Homo sapiens: one gene and its partners. The protein of the gene in region 3 interacts with the protein of the main gene of each other region in a biochemical or structural test. Each region holds a gene or a part of one and is shown on either strand. Other genes may lie near its edges.

Region 1 (7,025 bases), on a different chromosome or scaffold from region 3:
TAAGACCTCATCTCAATAAAAAATAATAATAATAATAAAGGCCAGGAGCAGTGGCTCACACCTGTAAACCCAACACTTTGCTTTGGGAGGCCAAGGTGGGCAGATCCCAAGGTCAGGAGTTCAAGAGTAACCTAGCCAACATGATGAAACCCAGTCTCTGCTAAAAATGCAAAATTAGCCAGGTGTGGTGACGCATGCCTGTAGTCCCAGCTACTTGGGAGGCTGAGGCAGGAGAATCACTTTAACCCAGGAGGTGGAGGTTGCAGTGAGCCAAGATCATGCCATTGCACTCCAGCCTGGGTGACAAGAGCGAAAGTCCACCTCAAAAATAAATAAAATAATAATGATAAAATAAAATAAAAGTAAGCTTCATCACACTCACCGTGGAAGCCAGCATTGATCCTCCAAACCAAACTGCATATCGCTGCATGTGGTGTGTAATGACTTGTACATCAATAGGTTTTGGCTAAAGAAAGACATAGTATGATCATCTTCATAGTAAATTCAAATAACAACTTCTGTGTCATTTAACCTTAAATGTACATATACAAAAATAATATCTGTACTAAATTCAGGTGGTATCTTACAAACCAGAAACAATTGAGATTGGCTGTCTCAGAGGAAAGGGGTTGGGAACACTGTGGAAGAGACAGGGAGGGAACAGAGCAGAATAAATGGAAGGGAAATAACAATGAGCACATGTTTTATACAGTTCTGACTTTAAGAATCTAAATGTTAGTGTTTTACATACTAAAAAATAACACCTTAAAAGAAGGGGAGGTTGGGGCAAAACAAAGTACAACAAAAACAAATTAAACTAATTGTACTTTTTTCAAACATAAGCACACTAAGGTGAGGAAAGGGACTAACACAAGCAACTTGTGAGCATAGTATTTTGAATCTTATAAGCCTTCAGGCTGAAGATAAAATATAAGCAAATATTGAATTCTAGTTTTGGGTCTATTTTTCACAGTGGTGTGGATTAACAATTCTGAAACTATCATATACATATTCCAGGATTAAGCAAAAACATAAACATATTATAGATAATAGGAGCCAGGTTTCTCACTGTCAGAGAAGGGCATTACAATATGGAAGGGCAGAAAACTAGAGTGAACCTTCTATAACTGGAGACGTCTGTAAAAATTCATGGTTTTAATTTATGTAGAGAATTAGATATAGATGTATAAACACACACACACCCCTAGCTCTAATCACTGAGAAGGCCTAGACTCAGTGATACCCCAACAGCAATGAGCACAAAGCTTGGTTTCTTAGTAACGTTCTCCACTAACAGGAATAAGACAAGGGTGTCTTGAAGAAAGAAAAGGAGAAAAAAAGGGCTGATTCCAGGGCCAGAAAAGAGAAAGTACAAGATCAGCCTGAAACACCTTGCTGTGCCGGGAAGTACAGAAGTAGGCAAAAAAAAAGATGTGGCTGCATCAAAAAAAAAAACCTAAGAGCCATTTGAATAACTCCCACTGGTCAAATCTGAAAAAAAAAAAAATGTGGGATTAAAATTAATGATGAGTGGTATTACTGATATTATGATATTACAGTGATATTAAAGATATAGACCACAAAATGAGAAATCAGGAGTTCATATAGATATTACTAAAAGAATAAATGAATGTGGGAGAAGGGAAAACTCTTGCTTATAGTAAAACAAGTCTTAAAAACATAGAAGGAATGACAGAAATTGCAAAACTCCATTTAGCAACTACCACAGTAATAACTGTTTTAGGGAAGAATCACAATGGATGCTAAAAACTAGTGACTGAAACTTAAAAGAGAAACAGGATAGTCTGAAAGTGTCTCCTCATTAGATTCTTATTAAATATAAAGGAAAACATAATAACTTTATAGTGAAAAAACCTGGCAGACACAACTTCAACCAAAAGCTCAAAATTCACACACAGGACAAATTCTATCATGTGTCTACTGATACAATGCACTAAAAATGATACAATATCAATTCTGTGGCATCACTGCCAAAAGTACATAATCTGAACCTACTCAAGCAGAAATATTAAACAAACCCAAGCTGAAGGATATGCTACAAAATAAATGGCTGTACTCTTCAAAAATGTCACATTCATTCATGAAAGACAAAAAACATTGAGTATGTAACAGACTGAAGCAACACAATAAGTAAATGAAACATGCAATCCTTGATTGGATCCTGGATAAGGGGGAAGAAGGTATTTTGTTTTCCTTTTGTTATAAGGGACATTAGTGAAACAACCGGTAAAATTAGAATCAGTTCTATAACTAGATAACACTGGATCAAGGTTAATTTCATGATTTTGATAATTGTAATATGTTCTTGATTTTAGAAATATACTAAAATGTTTGGGGATAATGAACCATCATATCTACAATTTAGTGTGTGTGTGTGTGTACACACACCTATTTATAGAAACAGAATGATATGGCTTTTTTCAAAACTGTTTGGTTGCCATTAAAAATTACAGACTGAAGGAAAATAAAGCCAGAGATAGATAGATAAAGGCATGCTATTAAGATCTATAAAAGTTACTAGCAAGTAAAACTAAGGTGAAGAAGGCAGAGTCCTCCAAAACACAAGGTTTTTCCTATACATGATGAGCATCCCAAGTCTGAAAATCCAAAATGCTCCAAGATCCAAAAACTTTTTGAGCACCAACATGATGTTCAAAGGAAATGCTCAGAATTTCAGATTTTTGGATTAAGGATGTTGAACCAGTATATAATGCAAATACTCCAAAATCCAGAAAAACTCAAAACCTGCAACACTTCTGGTATGAAGCAATTCAAAAAAGGGACACCCAATCTGTTTCTTTCAATATGTCGATACGGTACTGATCACTGGGTAAATTTATTTCTTATTTACAAGTGTAAAAAGAGCTTAAAAATGTTAAACAATCTCACTTTTTTAAAATACTATACTCAGAAACATACAGCATTGTTTTGTACTTATATATCTGTAATGAGTTATTAAAAACTAAACAGCTACTTTAATACATCCATAACCATACCATTAGGACAATCAACTTCAATCTTTTAAGTATTCTAACAAAAAAACCAGAACATGCACTATGTTCATTCACATAATCAATGTGGTTAGTAGGATTCTCAGTACAGAGAATTTATACTTGCAAAACCCAATGACTTCTTTTTTAGGTAGGAGGTAGGGTAGATAGATATGTGGGTAAGGGGAGTAGACGGATGGGCAAATGAATGGATGAATGGGGGTGGGCTGGTGGTTTGGTTGGTTGGGAAGGGGATGCAAAAGCAAACACAACATTTTAAAAGTCTATTGAGTAGACTTCCTGAAGTGTGAAGTCATGACATTATAGGGACAGAGTTCAATATTTTGCCTTCCACCCAAAACATATACTTTTTACTGCATTCCTAGGGATAGGTTTACTCAAGATAATCAAAATATAGGCACTGACAACAGTCAGCCATCATGCAATTTCTCAACAATCAGCAAACCCTAGAGTGCTGTGCTTTACTTTTAAGTAATTCTGAATGATTATGGAAGTCTCAGATAAAGTCCTCATTCTTGGTAATCTTCCAAGCAGAAGGTATTTTATTCACATGAAATACCTTTTTTCAAACAGCTTTGAAAAAAGCCATATCATTCCTCTAAATCAACGTTCTGCTTCAATATTTAACAAGGATGAAAAAAATGAAGAATCTATCTCTAAATATAGAAAGTAGACATCTAAGAATTTTAAATTAATTTTGATTTTTTTTAACCTCAAGCCTAAAGGTCCAGGACATGTAATACAAAGGTTACTTTATTAAACCACCGATTTGACTGCACACTTTGAGGTTGCTATGTGGGAGCTAAAGTCAGTTTTTGAGAGCAGGCTTGACTACTCAACAATGGCATCAATCTCAACTCAGCTTTGCTGTCCTTCTATAGTATAAAACATTTTGTGGATCCATAATTAATTTGATTGTTGGTGTATGCAAAGAAATCTACTATATTAATTATCTATGAGAGAGGTATTTAAAAAAAAAGTCTTTCCACAGGTATTACTAAGAATTATTTTCCAGAAATACAGACAATATCCTAGAAGAATCAAATGATCCAGAATATCACAGACATAAATCTATAACATTAACCATTTCCATTAGAATACCTGACAGGTTCCTCTTATTTTTCTAAATCAGAGTGAATGCTGGCAAATATTTCTCATCCTAATCAAGGAAGGCACCCTCAACCTTCTCACCAATAATTGGGAAAACCAACCTTCAATCTACCACCACTCAATTCCTCACTTAATTTCAGCCGGGCATCTACAGTTCTTTTCAAATCTCTTTGCAAGCGACGTCCAAAGTCCCTGAACATGGTTGAACCTCCAGAGAGGACAATATTCTAGTGGAGAGAAAATAAATATAATATTTAAAAAGAGAAAAGTTTAAAGATATAATATATAGTACTGAAATGCTATTATATCCTTTTTATGAGAGGTGTTTAAGTTTTTTTAAAGTAAGACCTTGAATAACAATTTTGCTATAAATACCTTGTAGAGAGGACGTCTGACATCAATAGGACAATTCTGAATTACTTCATCTACAACTTCTGAGATAGGTTGTGTAAAGTCTGGATTAGCAAACTGAAAAATAAGTTGGATATATAATAGAGATCATATCACTACTGACAAATATCACAATAAAAGGTTAAACAAAGTTTTCAGTTCAAAAACAAAAGGCCTTTTAGAAACCACTAATACTGGTCTCTAACAGATTCAGATTGAAGACACTGAAATCAGAGAAAACTCAAAATTATGATGATATATACCATTTTATAACTATCAGAATAGCAAACATGTAAAGTCATACATATACTATGAGCTGGCAAAAATCTGGGTAAATGGAAACTTTCATATAACGCTGTGAGAGTATACACTGATGTAACCACTATGGAGAATAATTTGGCAATAGTAACATAGTGACATGGTCTGGCTCTGTGTCCCCACCCAAATCTCATCTTGAATTGTACTCCCATAATTTCCACGTGTTGTGGGAGGGACCTGGTGAGAGAGAATTGAATCATGAGGGTGGTTTCCCCCATACTGTTCTCATGGAGTGAATAAGTTGCACAAGGTCTGATGGTTTTATCAGGGATTTCTGCTTTTGCGTCTTCCTCATTCTCTCTTTGCCTGCTGCCATCATGTAAGACAGGACTTGCTCCTCCTTGCCTTCTGCCATGATTGTGAGGCTTCCCCAGCCACGTGGAACCATAAGTCCAATTAAACCTCTTTCTTTTATAAATTGCCCAGTCTCAGGTATGTCTTTATTAGCAGTATGAAAACGGACTAATACAAATAGCTAATAAAATTTTAAATGCACATACCAGTAACTCCACTTCTTACAACAAACTCTGAAGAAACTCCCCAAACATGTATGCTATTACATATGCATATTTACTATAGCCTTGTTTCTAAGAGGAAAAACCCGTTAAGTCCATCAATAGGGGATGAAATAAATAAATGTAGTCTAATCTCATTATTCATGATTCCATATTTGTGAATTTACCTAATCGCTAAAACATATTTGTTACTCCCCAAATCAAAATATGGTTATTCATGGACATGCACGTGTAGAGCAACAAAAATTTGAGTCCACTGATGTGCACATTCCCCATTGAGGTTGAACAAGATGATACTCTGCTATCTAGTTTCAGCTCTCATACTATAAACAAGTGTCCTTTTCACAGTTCTATTTAGTGGCACGGTTTTCATATTTTTGTTAGTGATTTCATTATTTAAAATGGCCCCCAAGCATACTGCTCAAGTGCTGGCTAGTAAACACAAGGAGGCTGTGATGTGTCTTACAGAGAAAAAGCAAGTTAGATAGCTTTGTTCAGACATGTGTTCTAGTGCTATTGAATATAAATGAATATACTAAAATGATATACTAAATGCAGTGCCTTTAAAAAGAAACACACATGAAACAAGGGTATATGTTAATGGGATAACAAAAATGTTACCAGAGGCTCAAAGAAACCTAATACTGTATTTCCCCTAGGAGCAATAGCTAGCTCAGTGTTCACTAATTCAGCGCTCTCAAGAACTTTTTGGCACATCTACTTTGAATAACAAACATCAGCTATATATTCAAACGATGATATACCATAGTCAAAATAAACTTACTATTTCCAAACAGCTGGCACTCAAGAAAAACATACTTTTTAAAAAACTAACTTAAACAAAAACAAAAAACAACTTGAAGCTGGGCATGGTGACTCACACCTATAATCCCAGTGCTTTGGGAGGCCAAGGCAGGACCATTGCTTGAGACCCAGAGTTTGACACCAGCCTGGGCAACATAGCGAGACCCTGTCTCTACAAAAAATTTAAAAACTAGCTAGGCATGGTGGCACACACCTGTAGTTCCAGCTACTTGAGAGGGCTGAGGAAAAAGGATTGCTTGACCCTAGGAATTCGAGGTTACACTGAGTTATGATCACACCACTGCACTCCAGCCTGGGTGACAGAGAGAGACTCTGTCTCTAAATAAATAATCAAAATCTAGCTCTAATTAGTGAAAAACAAACAAGTATTGTATATCTCCTCAGCCATTCATTTTTATCATTAGGTTGTCCTAGTTGAGAGACATTATTCCTTTATTTATTAAACTGAGTCTATAACTGTATTGATAATTATTAGGCATGTGTCAATTTTTTCTTTTTTTTTTTCTTTTTTTTTTTTTTTTGAGACCGAGTCTCGATCTGACACCCAGGCTGGAGTGCAGTGGCGCAATCTTGGCTCACTGCAACCTCTGCCTCCTGGGTTCAAGCAATTCTCCTACCTCAGCCTCCCGAGTAGCTGGGATTACAAGCGTCCGCCACCACGCCCGGCTAATTTTTGTGTTTTTAGTAGAGACGGGGTTTCACCATGTTGGCCAGGCTGATCTCGAACTCCTGACCTCAGGTGATCCGCCTGCCTCAGCCTCCCAAAGTGCTGGGATTATAGGTGTGAGCCACCACGCCCTGCCTTTTTCCAGTTTTTAAGATTAGTTCTAAATTA
Region 2 (7,025 bases), on a different chromosome or scaffold from region 3:
GCAGATCCAAAGATGCACACCGGCGCCCAGGGTGACAGAGCGGTGCTCACACCCTTTCCCTCCCTCCCAGAGTCAGCCATACACAAGCCACCAGCCTCCTAGCTCACACAGAGGGAAGGCAGCTACCTCCCAGTCAGAGACATACACACAAACAGCCAGGGCAGACAGCCAGACAGTGACTGCTGTCACACACAGCCTTCCACATCCAGAAGGTCCCACACAGGCTGTCACAGAGATGGTTGCATTTAGTGACATACAGTATCACACCCATCACACAGAGAAAAGGTGAGAAATACCTGCCTGCACAGAGTCGCACACGCACATACTCAAGCACTTGTGATGGCACGCACATACAACACAGATCCAGCCAGGACACGGGCCATTGGTGCATAGTCAGAAGGCCCTCACACACACAGCCAAGACAGTCACTCACACAGTGTCACACAGAGAAGGCAGTCATGTACAGCCATCTGTGCACAAATACACAAGGTGATCACAGCCACCAACTGCCCTGGTAGCCTCATTAAACACCCATGCGCTGTCTCATATCATCAGCCACATGGTAGTCACACACACACATGCCAAGGAGGCAGGTCCAGGCTGCCACCTGCACAGGCGTGTCACATACGTCCTGCGATCTATCCTGAGCTGTACCTCGTAGGCAATGGGAAGCACCAGGCGATGCCAGGCAGCTAGGTAGTCAGCATCACCCATGCGGGGCCCGTTCCATGCCACGTTGACGGTGAAGCCTGTGCCCGCAGCCCGGCCGATCTGGCTGCTGGCACCCTCATCCCCCATGGGGAAGAAGGTGCCATGATCATAGCGGTGCAGGGACACATATAGCACACTGCCAGGGAGGGGGTGGGAAGCGGACCATGGCTGGTTAGGGGCTCCAGTACCCCTGAGGTGCTCACCCGCCTCCCTGATCACACTGCGGCCCCTGACTGCAGCCCTTACCTGGGGTCATCCTCAAACATGTGCTGAGTTCCATTACCGTGGTGGACATCCCAATCCACAATCAGGATCCTGGGGAGGAGACAGCACCTCAGTAACCGACGATACTCACGCCCTGGAAGAGGGCTGGGCTAGACCCCTGGGGTCTGCAGGGGCATTTAGTGCTGAGTGGCAGGACCCTGGGTCCTATCAGTTAAGGAGAAAAGTCTGATCCTGGTTCCCAAGGGCTGCCCGGTAGGCCTGAGCAAGTGCTCGGGGCTGGGCCCTGGGCTCTTCTGGGTCATTGCTAGGGAACTGGACCCTGGGCCTTGGGCAGCTAATGCTGGGGGCTGGTTCGTGGGTCTTCTGGAGTATGCATCAGGAGCCTAGACCTGGGTTCTGTCGAGGCAGCTGCTATAGGCCAGAAATGCTGGGGTGGGACCCTGGATCCTGTTTTGTAAGTGCCCAGGTAACATGATCTGGGGGTCCTATCTAAATAAGCACTGAGAGGCTCCATCCTCGGTCCTTCTCTGGGTAAGGACTGCACCCTTACTTCTTTCTGGGGAAGGAAGTCCTGGGAGCTGGACCATGGGGCATGAGTAAACAATGGGCTGGGGGGAGCATCCAGGTCCCCACAAGGATCAGGATTTGGGGGGTCCCCAGGGAGTCCTTACCGTAGGGCATGCCCACTGATAGTCTGGGCATGGCGAGCAGCCACAGCCACAGAGTTGAAAAAGCAAAAACCGCAAGCTGCATCCTGCTCTGCGTGGTGTCCTGGGGGACGCACCACAGCAGCACCATTCAGAACCTGGGAAGCAGCAGGGTGCTAAGATCGGACAGCCTGCCCTCACCTTCCTTTCTTCCTTTTTTTTTTTTTTTTTTGAGACGGAGTCTCGCTCTGTCGCCCAGGCTGGAATGCAGTGGCGCCATCTCGGCTCACTGCAAGCGCCGCCTGCCAGGTTCCCGCCATTCTCCTGCCTCAGCCTCCTGAGTAGCTAGGACTACAGGCGCTTGCTGCCACGCCCGGCTAATTTTTTGTATGTTTCTTAGTAGAGACGGGGTTTCACCATGTTATCCAGGATGGTCTCGATCTCCTGACCTCGTGATCTGCCCACCTCGGCCTCCCAAAGTGCTGGGATTACAGGTGTGAGCCATCACGCCCGGACCTTTTTTTTTTTTTGACACAGGGTCTCACTCTGTTGCCCAGGCTAGAGTGCAGTGGTGCAATCATGGCTTACTGCAGCCTTGACCTCCTGAGCTCACCTCAGCTTCTCAAAGCGCTAGGATTACAGACGTGAGCCACTGCACTTGGCCACCCTTCCCTTTCTCCAGTTCCTTCCATTATTCCCCCAGCCTCTAGGCCCACCCCCTCCCGTGCCCCTCCCCATGGCCCCTTTCCTCAGGCCCTGCTTGACTCTCTCAGAGCCTCCAGAAACAGCAGATGGCTCTCTTTTTCCATTCCCCCCAGGTCCTCCTCTCCCCAGCCCACAGAGGACACACCTCTCCTGAGAGCACAGCCTCCACCAGGCGGCAGGCAGCGCCAGTGGCAAGCTGTGCACAGGCGAAGGTACTGGGGCAGATATAGATGGAGTCAAAGTTGGAACTCTCACGGTGCAGCTCCCGGGTTTTCATTTTCTCTGTGGCCCGGAGATGACCCACGTACTCAGCACTGGAAGCACAGAGAGGAGCACCCGCAGGACAGTGAGGAGGGTCTGTCCCCTCCCTGGTCCCCACCCCTAAGACAGGGACTTCAGCCCCTCTCAAGTCCTGCAGCAGCTCCCCAGGAGGGGAAACCCAAGTTCCAGCCCCTGAGACCTCATCCACAGTCCTGGGAATCCACCCACCCCAGGCACCGGGGTCTGACCTGTGACAGGTGAGCAGCTCAGCCTCTGTGGCAGGGCGCGGTGTCAGGGTGAGGCAGCGCCCGGCAAGGCCCAGCTCCTCCAGACGGCACATGATCCGCAAGATGCGCTGGGGTACCTCAGGGTGGTGGCTAGCAGTGGGGAAACGAGAGGTAGAGGCTTAGTGCCTGAGGGGGAGGGACCCCCAACACCTACTCATCCAGCCCTCCAAATGCCTACCTGTCCCACAAGTTGCAGTGATTCATCATATTTTGGTCATAGACCAGCCCTGTGCGAGACTGTAGCACTGGCCATGTCAGGATTGGGAGCACAGGGGGCTCCCAGGGTCCTTCCTCCTCGCTCTCCTCTACATTGTCCTCCTCCATGTTGTCCCTCTCCACGGTCTCAGCTAAAAGGGGGAGGCCACGTTTGTCCTACCCTCTCAATCTGAATCCCCGTCATACTCTGGAACTCAGGTGACCCAAACAGAAAAAGGGGTGGGAGGCCTGAAACCAGGGCCCAGGGAGAGAGAGAGGGCCTGACCCTCTCCCACCAAGGCAGCCCAGTAAAGTCAGAGGAAGTCTGAAGACAGTCTCCCCCAGGGCTCATCCCACGTCCACCCCACACCAGGCCCACACCCCACTTCCTACTTGATCTCACAAGAACCTCCCAGAAGGGCTCAAGGGCTTCCAGAGCACAGGAAACTGAAGCCTGGGCACTGCAGGGCAGGGAGAAAATATGATGTCAAGGAATGTGGGCGGGCAGTGAGGCTCCCGCTTTCCCCTCCTCCACCGGGGCTCACCTCCGGCAGGGGGCACCAGGTGACTCCAGCATGGGGCAAGGGTCTCCCAGAAGGGTGTGGAGCGAAGCACTGACGCCTTCAGCCAGGGCGCGGAGGTTGTAGCCACCCTGGGGCAAGGAGTTGTGAAGGGGGATCAGGAAAGGACCAGACATGACCAGGGAATAATAATAATGATGATAATAAGAGAGTGCATACCACATGTCAAGCAACAAGGAACTTAGAAGGGTGCCTCACTGAATTCACTGGACAATGATATGAGGTGATTACATTATGCTCGTTTTATAGAAGGAAAGCGGAGGCACAAAGAAGTGAAGTGACTTATGCAAGGTTGTCCAGCTAGTAAGTGAATTCCTGGGCCAGGAACTCCTGTTGGACTTGAAAGCTTCGTTCTTAAGCCCTCCAGGATCCACAGGCTGAGGGACGAAGGTGAGTCACTCACCTCCAGAGACAGGATCAGCTTGCCTCCTGCCAGACCCATGAGCAGGTGGGTTAGCTGGGCGAACCCTGCCGGAGTGGCGGCCATCTCACCCTGGGGGGACATGGAGGGTCAGCCTGGCTCCATGCAACCCACCTGCCGCCCCAGGGAGCCTGCCTTACCTTGGGGTCCCCTTGCAGGGCATCAAATCCAGCAGCCACCAGGACCAGCTGAGGCTGGAACTGAAGGGGGAACAGACTCCATGAGGCTACCTACCCTCACAGCCTAACCTTCAAGGCCACTCCTCCTCCCAACACACCCCAGATCCCCAGGACCTCGAGGGCGACTGGCAGCAGGACGTGCAGGAAAGCAGCAATGTAGTCAGCATCCCGCATCCCCACCTGCAGACACAGGAGTGTGATGGGGGATGTTCAGCCACCTGTCCCGAGCCGCTGACAGAAGGGCGGGGCTGGGCCTCACTTTGGGGGCAGAGGTGGGTAGATGCTGACCTGGTTCCAAGGCACATTGATGGTATATCCTTGGCCTTGGCCGAAACCTGTGGTGGACCAGTTAGAGGCCTTCAGGTGGGGCCAGAACCTACCCTGCTCGTAGCGGTGGATGGAGAAATAGAGGACACTGGGGGCAGAAGAAAAAGAGGTAAGAGAGTTGGAGAAGTCAATCCCCATAGACACCCCCAACCCAACAGTTGCCAGTTTCCTCTACCACTCATTTCCCCATTCAACCACTCGTTCATTCTCTCATTCATTAATTTCCCCATTAATTATTTAATCCATGAATCCATTCTTCCATTAATTTACCCTTACATTCAGTCACCAATTTAATCATCTTACCATTTTTTCATTCTTATCTTTATTTATCCATTACCTCACTCGCTCATTCATTTAGTCTCTCACCAGAACCTCTCCCTCAGCAAACATCGCTGCCCCCTCAGTGCCCACCCAATTTCAGGCTCAGCTCTAGGGTCTATCTCAGATCATGGGGGCTCCTGACTCTGTGGGGTACTCTAGATCATGTCCGCCCACTACCTGCCCCTATGACAAAGGTAGTAGTAACAGCAGGTCAAACCCTGTGACACTGGAGGCCCAAATGGAGCATGGGGCTCTTAGCTGCGGGGAGCCAGCTAAGGCTGAAAAGAGCCTCAAGCCAGGCTGGGGAGCTGGGTGATTCTCTAGCAGGAAGTGGAGAGACCTGGGGGGTAGGGGTGAGACTTGCTTCTGTGGGTGGAACTAGAGCGGGGGTGCTGGCTGGGGCTGTCATGAGGCCAGTGAAAGGGCAGTTCCTCCTCCCCAATGCCTTACAGGCCACCTCTACTACTTCTTCTATTTTATAGGCGAGAGAATGAGCACTCAGAGGGGTGAGTATGACCGACACGCAAAACAGATACTGAAAAGATGCGATGCACGTGTTTTGACAGAAAGCCCAGCAAGGGGCCATGGGAGGGCTTAATTCTGACTGGGGAAAGCAAAATGAATAATCTATCATCCATCCATCCTTCTATCTGGTCATTTACCCCCTGCTTTGTTCCAGAGAGGATCTAAGGCAGCTTTTTTAGGGAAATGCAAGAAATAGTGGTATGCATTGAATCTAGACAAACTTAAGAGTCACATTTTAATGGGTTGATAATGTAGTTGTGAAATTTAATGCAAGTGATATAGAAAGATTCTTAAAATTGAGGGAAAAGAGCTTGGAATTGGGGAATAAAAACAAGCAAAAGCTCTGGTGTTGAGTAGGTGGAGGATGATTGTTTTATTTTTGACATTGATAGATAAATCTTGGTTCTAAACTTTTAGTAAGTTAATCATTAGAGGAAGAGAAACACAGTAGGACATAAAAATTATCACCAGAGGGCTGGGCGCAGTGGTTCACACCTGTAATCCCAGCACTTTGGGAGGCCAAGGTGGGCGGATCACTAGAGGCCAGAAGTTCGAGACCAGCATGGCCAACATGGCGAAACCCTGTCTCTACTAAAAATACAAAAAATTTGCTGGGCGTGGTGGCGCGTGCCTGTAATCCTAGCTACTTGGGAGGTGGAGGTAGGAGAATTGCTTGAACCCAGGAGGCGGAGGTTGCAGTGAGCCGAGATCGGGCCACTGCACTCCAGCCTGGGCGACAGAGCATGACTCTGTCTCAAAAAAAAAGAAAGGAAAAGAAAAAAATATCATTGGGGAAGACAGGAAGAAAGAAAAGATCTGAAGAAAGCTGACTCTAAAAGAGAGCCATCAAAGTCAATAAACAGCAGAACTAGCACTCAAGCTAAGTTTAAAAAGAAAACAGAAGGGAAATTCAAAATAAGTTCAACCACCTTCAAGTTAAATGGTGGATTGATAGCACAGGTTTACTTCCTCAACCTCCTACTACCCCATTCAAAATACAGTAAAGAAATTGTAAACAAACAGCAACCCAGAAAGAGAGAGTGGAAAGGATGTCAGAGAATAAGAGACTTCAATGAATTTCTAGAAAGTAGACTTTGAGATTCCAGGGGCCCCAGGGTGCTCTGTCTCATGCTGAGCAGGATAAGGGGGCACCCAAGATAAGCTGAAGTTTCCTTTCTGGAGAAATCCAGTACAGATCCAGGTCAATGCACACAAAATCCCTTCTGAAGAGCCAACTCACTGAATCACCAATACAACAAAGTTACTTGTTTCTTTTAACTACTTAGTTTTAGATCATCTGCTTTCCTTGTCTTCACAACAGTATTTTAAGGATTATCCAGTTTGTCTCCCTGCTGCTGGAGTTCAGAGACTGAGAGATGGGGAGCTGGGAGATCCAAGGGCATGGACATGTTCTTTTTGTTTGTTTGTTTACACACGTTTGTTAATAAGGAAGAATGCACTGAATATATTCACAGTGTTTCACATCTGTGTGTGTAATCAATAGTGTACCCATGAAAGAACACACAGCTATAGCCTCCTATGCATTTATTCAAACAAAAAGAATGATTAATGATATTAAAGAATTCTTTGAATGACAGACCCTTGGCAGATTAAAAAAATAATTATTGTTAATTTTCAGG
Region 3 (7,025 bases):
GCTGACATTTGGACAGGAGCCCCGTGGAGGTGGAAGCCGACAAGACTCTGCCGTCAGCTCAGGGACAGAGGGCAGGGCAGGTTGGCGGGTCCTGGGGCTGGACCGGCAAGACCAGGATAGCGCTAGCCGGCTGCCTGGAGCATTGTGGCCAGAGACTCAGCCTATGTGTGGCTGCAAGTGACAAGTGCCTTAATGGAGAGCCTTAAAGGAGAGTTAAACATGCCTTCCAAGGAAAACCTGGCCAGGAGAGAATAAGCCCCGCCCAGGCCCCAGAGCTCCCAATCCCCTCGGCACAGGTCCCAGGGAGGGTGCGCTGCGGCCCACTCCTTGCCACTCACCTCCAGCTTCCTCCTGGCCTCTTCCTGCTCCTGCCGCTCCTTGGCCATCCGCTGGGCTCTCTCCGCCTCCGCCTTCCGCCTGTCCTCCTGCTCTTTCTCCTTAGCGAGGTTTTCAAAGTTAGCTCTGATGTTACTTGTTTTGCTGGTCACTATAGAGGAAGGAGGGAGGACGTGTGCCTTGAGCACAGCAAAAACACTGCTCCTGGACAACAGCCCCACCCACACAGAGTGACCTCCCCAGGAACCGGTCATCCCCCTAACCCCCAAGGAGGGAAAGGTTCTTGCAGCTGCCAGCTCAGCCCACTGGTCCGGAGCCAGCACTGGGCACCTGCCGCAGGGCACTGCGTACCTGGTGGGACTGGCAATCCCCCTAAGCCTGGCATCAGGAAGATCTCTAAATAAGACGGTATCTTCACCACCACACTCACCTTTTTAAATAAAAACAGCCAATTTCCCTTAAAGACATCTGTCCTTGATAAAGCAGTTAAGGTACTGATGTATACTGTAATTGACGTATACTGAGTATAGTAAATCTCAACCAGAGTATACATTTTTTTATATTGTGTGTGACAAAAATGGAAAAGAGGGCAGTGGCTCATGCCTGTAATCCCAGCACTTTGGGAGGTTGAGACGGGAAGACTGAGATCAGGAGTTTGAGACCAGCCTGGGAAAGACAGTGAGACCCCGTGTCTATTAAGAAAAAATGATAAAAATTTAAGTCAAAAGTGGGGAATATGGCCGGGCATGGTGGCTCACACCTGTAATTCCAGCACTTTGGGAGGCTAAGGTGGGCGGATCACGAGGTCAAGAGATCAAGACCATCCTGGCCAACATGGTGAAACCCTGTCTCTACTAAAAATAGAAAAATTAGCTGGGCTTGGTGGCAGGCACCTGTAATCCCAGCTACTCGGGAGGCTGAGGCAGGAGAATCGCTTGAACCTGGGAGGCAGGGGTTGCAGTGAGCCGAGATTGTGCCACTGCACTCCAGTCTCGCGACAGAGCGAGACTCTGTCTCAAAAAAAAAAAAAAAAAAAAAAAAAAAAAAAGTGGGAAGACACATGAGCCTTCCCTGCTGTGTCCGGGACTGTGGCGGTGGCTGTCTGTGTCTCAAGGACCATGAATAGAACCATGAGAGCTGCAAGTTGACTGTTTTCTCATGGAATAGCGTTTTTCCCTGAAATAACAACTGACAGTCCAACTATGGTTATGCAAAGCTGGGTATCTGGCAACAGTTTTCTCCCAAGTGAATGAACTAAGCCTATTGTGTCAAGAAAAATTACTGGAGTATTTGTTGCCAACGGGAAAATTCCAGCTTTCAAGTAAAAGACAGAATTTTGAAAAATGTGAGGCTGCCACATGAACATGCTGATTTCCACTCAGCTTCTGCAGATGAAATAGATGATGACAGCAAATGTGATTTTTTTTGGTATTGTGGAATGAGAAGTGTCCACAACTGGAAGACGAGCACAACTCAGAGACCCAGCATTTTCCAAATGACCAACACACAGTGCTGCCCAAGCACAGTGGGTAGCGAGTCCCTCACAGGGCCAGAGGAGCCGGCCTGCAGGACCACCACTGCCTGGCACGCTTGGGCGGCGTCGCAGAAGGACACCCACGCTGCCCTCAAGGTTACAAACACTCCTCCCTTTCCCAATCGCCTACCTAGGTGATTCCACATGTTCTTCCTAAACAACGTAACATCGATAGACTGCAGAGGCAGATGTGAGAGTGCAGCCATCTTCTATTAAAGAGATTTACAAAACAAAACAATGCCGGTCTTCTCACTAAGTGCTGGGATTACAGGAATGAGCCACTGTGCATGGCCAGTTATATTATTATTTTTATTTTTTGAGATGGAGTTTAGCTGTTGTCGCCCAGGCTGGAGTGCAGTGGCGCAATCAAGGCTCACTGCGACCTCTGCCTCCAGGTTCAAGCAATTCTCGTACCTCAGTCTTCTGAGTAGCTGGGATTACAGGCGTGGACCACCATGCCCAGCTACTTTTTGTATCTTTAGTAGAGACAGGGTTTCACCATGTTGGCCAGTCTGGTCTCAAACTCCTGACCTCAGGTGATCCACCCACCTCGGCCTCCCAGAGTGCTGGGATTACAGGTATGAGCCACCACACCCGGCCAAGGTTTATTCTTTTTAAGTGAACCAATTAATAACTTTCCAATGTCGCTCATGCCTGTAATCCCAGCACTTTGAGAGGCCGAGGCAGGTGGATCACTTGAGCTCAGGAATTCAAGACCAGCCTGGGCAACACAGTGAGACCTCATCTCTACTAAAGATAAAAAAATTTGGCCGGGCACAGTGGCTCATGCCTGTAATCCCAGCACTTTGGGAGGCCGAGGCGGGCAGATCATGAGGTCAGGAGATCGAGACCATCCTGGCTAACACGGTGAAACCCCGTCTCTACTAAAAAATAGCAACAACAACAAAAAAATTAGCCGGGCGTGGTGGCAGGCGCCTGTAGTCCCAGCTACTCCGGAGGCTTGAGGCAGGAGAATGCCGTGAACCCGGGATGGGAGGCGGAGCTTGCAGTGAGCCGAGTCCGCGCCACTGCACTCCAGCCTGGGCGACAAAGTGATACTCTGTCTCAAAAAAAAAAAAAATTTAACTGGGCAGGGGGCATGCGCTTATAGTTCCAGCTACTCCAGAGGCTGAGGCAAGAGGACTGCTTGAGCCCAGGAGACTGAGGCAGCAGTCCTGCCTGGATGACACAGCAAGACCCGGTCTCAAAATAAATAAATAAATAAACCATTCCTCTCTCTCTTTTTTTTTTTTTTTTGAGACGGAGTCTCGCTCTGTCATCCAGGCTGGAGTGCAGTGGCGCAAACTCCGCTCACTGCAAGCTCCGCCTCCTGGGTTCACGCCATTCTCCTGTCTCAGCCTCCCGAGTAGCTGGGACTACAGGCGCCCGCCACCATGCCTGGCTAATTTTGTTTTTGTATTTTTAGTAGAGACGGGGTTTCATCGTGTTAGCCAGGATGGTCTCGATCTCCTGACCTCGTGATCCGCCCGTCTTGGCCTCCCAAAGTGCTGGGATTACAGGCATGAGCCACTGTGCCGGGCCACATTCCTCTAATTTCTAATATAGTCAATGTCATCAAATACATCAACATCTTGGGGGTTCTCACGAGTGGTCAAAGTGTCAAAGCGTCCTGGGCCCTCAATCTCTGAGAACTGTGGGTCCATAGCCCCTGAAGGAAGTCAGTGGTGGCTCTCTGCATCCTGTGTTAAATTTAGCACTTGCTCTCATGTATGTATAACATTTTCCCCAACTACTTGACTCTCCGGGGCAGGGCCCACATCTGACTCCATCGTGTGTCCAGCACAGAAAAGGACAGGTTTCGAGCTCCCTGTCAAGGGCCCAAGAACGAGCAGCAGAGAGAATGTCTGCTGTCGCCTGCACATCGACGTCATGATGTCTTCCTCCTGTCACAGCTGCGACCGAGCGGCTCAGGGAGTTGGGCAGGCCCCAGCTGCTCCCAGAAGCTGGTCACTGGCAGTGTGGAGGCCCTTGTGAATGTGCACTTAGCCCCTTTGCTCTGGGAAGAGCCCCTTGAAACGGGCCCCACTGAAACGGCTGCACCATGCTGCGTCTAAAAGGTGACTCTAAACCTCTGCAGGAGAAACAAGATCTTCATCAGAACGATCATTTTCTTTCCCAAAAATACGCAGCAACAACCACGCTTTCAACTAGTGGTGCATCTGCTCCTGGCTGTTTCACAACTGTCCTTCCCCTCAGTGTTTTCCTGGGAAACCACACGGTGCTCCTGGTATCAGCCGGGACTCACCAGCTTCGACAGGTACTGTCTTCTGGTAGGCAGAGGACACCTGGGTGACATCCTCAAAGGTTGACGCATTCTGCAGAGACAGGACATGGGCGTCAGGAGAGCACTTTTCTCTTTTCTCCATGCCCTGTGGTAGCTCCTGCCAGATGCAAATGCCTTCCCCAGATCTTCCCAAAGGCCCAGCCACACAGCCCAGAGCACTCTTCATGGCCTCTCGGTTTTGCAAACTAACTGAGGCATGAAAACTATTACCAACCACATTTGCAGGCAATCGTGGGTCAGCATTAGCATAAGAAATGCATGTATCTCCATCTGCTCTACCACAAACCAATTCTGGGATCAGCCTCAAGCCTTCCCCACCCTCCGTCGCCACCCAGAGGTGTGAGCATTTACAGGAAGCGAAGACGCTGGGGACACATGCAAGCCTCCAGTGGCCCGTCCTACACACTACCCAGTGGTGCAATCACACCTTTCTGCATTGCAGGGGACTCAACTATGGTCTGACCAAGCGACGGCGATGACTCTTACGTGCTGACTCAGGTGGAGACTGTCAGGGCTCATGGAGACCAGTGGCCGTACCCAGTTTCACTGTGGGTTTCACTACCTCTGATGAGAACACCTGAGGCTCAGAAGCCACCAGAGCCCCCATACCATGGCCCCTTTCTGCCCAGCACCTCCTGCTTGCCCCCTTCCTGGCCCGCCTGTCCTTCCTCGGACCCCGCTCCCTCCTCCCATCAGTCAGCTCCAGCGTCTACTCCATGTCCCTTGAGCTGCTTGCACCTGTTCAAAGGCAAGGCCATCAGCCTTACTGGGTCCCATCACCCACTGGGCCCTCTGCAGACATCACCTTGCCCTGAGGGGGCAACTTCACCTCCCAGCCTGGGTTGTAGCCCTATCCCCACAATGTATGGGGACCCGGGCAGTTACGTCACCCTCTCTAAGCCTTGGACTCCTCCATCACACAGCAAACAGAGAGAGAAGCTCCACCCCCTCCTGGATGAAAGACAATGACACGAAAGGCCACACCCACACACTGCCTCCTCACGTGCTCACAAGCTCAGCGGTCACCGCCAACACCAGCAATGCTGACCACAGACACCCACAACACAGGCAGTCCCTCAGGTTCCGGCCTCAAAGCCACAACCTCTGACTCACCCACAGGGGAGCTCCTTCCCTCCGTCTGTCCCAGTGCCTTGCAAGGCCCCTGCTACCTCACTGGGTCCCCCTGCCCAGTGTCCTCTGACCGCGTGCCTACTCCCCTCCCAACTCTGCACGCCACCCGGACCCGGCCCCGGCCCTACCCCAGCTCTCTCTCGCTGACACCCACATCTGCTCCTCCCAGTTCTTCGGCTCCACAGTTGGCCCCACGTCCACCCCACATCCACCCGACTGCTCCCTCCCCTGCGTCCCTTGGCGCCAAACACCATGCCCTGCTTCTCCACCACCCGAGCCCCTCCAGCTCTCTTCAGGACCACACCCCTCTGCCCAGGCCAACCCCCACAACCCAGACTCCACGCTGAGGCCGGGGGCTTCTCAAAGTAGACCCCCCCAGTGTTCCTTGCCTGCTAACCTTTCTGGGGCCACGCACGTCAGATGCTCTGTGGTGTGTGACGCATGTCACGACATGCAGAATGCTCTGTGGTGTGTGGGGCTCTCCAGGGCCAGCTCTATCCCCGCTCCCCACCCTCCCTCTGCAGCTAGGCTCCTTGAGAACCTGCAGTGACTCCTGTCCCACCCAGGCCCACACCTCGCCCCTCCGTGGTCTCCTGAGCCTTCTCTCCTGGTGAACTCGCGCCTGCCCTCAGAAATGAGCCCAGGCTACTGCTCCCTGGGGAGCCCAGCCCGAACACCTGCTCTGCCTGCCTACGCCCCTGGATGGTGCTGTGTGGTCAGCTGCGAGGCAAGGACTGACCCTGCCACCCCTGACCACAGGCCACGCGCAGGAGCAGGCAGTGTGGAGCCCGCGTCTCTACGAGGCTGAAGACGGGAGACATGGCTCATCACCGCACACGCAGCGCTGGCTGCCAGCGAGGTAGCCCCACACGCAGTCTAACACACTCAGGTTCCAATCTGATTTACTATTAAGAATTTAAGTTCAAATGGACATGAGCCCTCGAGGCTCTCACCTCTCATGTTAAACATCTGGGTTCCTATGGCTGCAGCCAGGTGCTGAGCCTGCCTGGCCTGGGGCCCCCAGTTAGGAGGTGGGCCGGTGCCAGCGCCTATCCCACAGCACGGCCATGAGGAGCACAAGACTGTCCGAGTCAGTCATCGCCACCACCACCACCACCACGACGGAAATCACTTGTGCCCCACCCCAGCGCGTGGATGTTGGCCAGCACGGTGAGCCACGCCCACCAAGAGCCCCTGCAGGCAGAAGACACTAAGCTCCGGGGCTGGAATATTTACCTTATCCATCCGATCCTTCTGCACCCCATACTTCCCGCCGAATCCTTTGGAGTAGTCTGAAACGTGGCAAAACACAACACTTACTCTGAGGTGGAGGCGAGCATGGGGGTGGCCGTGGGTGCATGCAGACAGATCCAGAAACAGCCCAAGAAGGTGCACCACAGCGGGAAGAAACGAGAATGGCCAAGCGAGGCTTCACTTGCAAGGCAAGTTTTGCTTCCACCCATGGTCGTGAGACACAGGCAGTGAGAAGCAGAGCACAGGCCAGGGGCAGAGGCTTCAGCATTCCCTGAGGGGCAGGAGGGGCAGGAGGGGCGGCGGGCAGCAGGCAGGAGCTAAGCGAGGAAAGAGGGCACGGACAGGCCTTTGCAACGCGCCACTTCAATAGCACAGTCTTCCGCACCAGCACGGGCTTATTCTCATCTGCTTCCTGTGCGCCTGCTCTACTGAGCGCTAAAAAGAGGCTCAATCGCAGTTTGTTCT

Evidence for each region. The genes of interacting proteins can lie anywhere in the genome.
Region 1: the proteins of CTTN (region 3) and ACTR3 form a complex in vitro, tested with the Homo sapiens proteins (3 studies listed by BioGRID).
Region 2: the proteins of CTTN (region 3) and HDAC6 form a complex in vitro, tested with the Homo sapiens proteins (3 studies listed by BioGRID and IntAct, with this or other methods).

Annotation. Positions count from the first base shown.
Region 1 is NC_000002.12:113,949,064-113,956,088, reverse strand, and holds part of ACTR3 (actin-related protein 3), read right to left. Parts: intron 4,611-7,025; coding exon 4,518-4,610; intron 4,370-4,517; coding exon 4,244-4,369; intron 467-4,243; coding exon 383-466; intron 1-382. UniProt on the Homo sapiens protein: ATP-binding component of the Arp2/3 complex, a multiprotein complex that mediates actin polymerization upon stimulation by nucleation-promoting factor (NPF).
Region 2 is NC_000023.11:48,812,042-48,819,066, reverse strand, and holds part of HDAC6 (protein deacetylase HDAC6), read right to left. Parts: intron 4,628-7,025; coding exon 4,501-4,627; intron 4,393-4,500; coding exon 4,327-4,392; exon of another isoform or gene 4,234-4,326; coding exon 4,174-4,233; intron 4,106-4,173; coding exon 4,016-4,105; intron 3,684-4,015; coding exon 3,577-3,683; intron 3,493-3,576; coding exon 3,425-3,492; intron 3,184-3,424; coding exon 3,015-3,183; intron 2,927-3,014; coding exon 2,798-2,926; intron 2,603-2,797; coding exon 2,434-2,602; intron 1,742-2,433; coding exon 1,608-1,741; intron 1,027-1,607; coding exon 958-1,026; intron 848-957; coding exon 655-847; intron 1-654.
Region 3 is NC_000011.10:70,422,513-70,429,537, reverse strand, and holds part of CTTN (src substrate cortactin), read right to left. Parts: coding exon of another isoform or gene 6,986-7,025; exon of another isoform or gene 6,599-6,985; coding exon 6,543-6,598; intron 4,207-6,542; coding exon 4,137-4,206; intron 3,842-4,136; coding exon of another isoform or gene 3,759-3,841; exon of another isoform or gene 3,451-3,758; intron 488-3,450; coding exon 339-487; intron 1-338.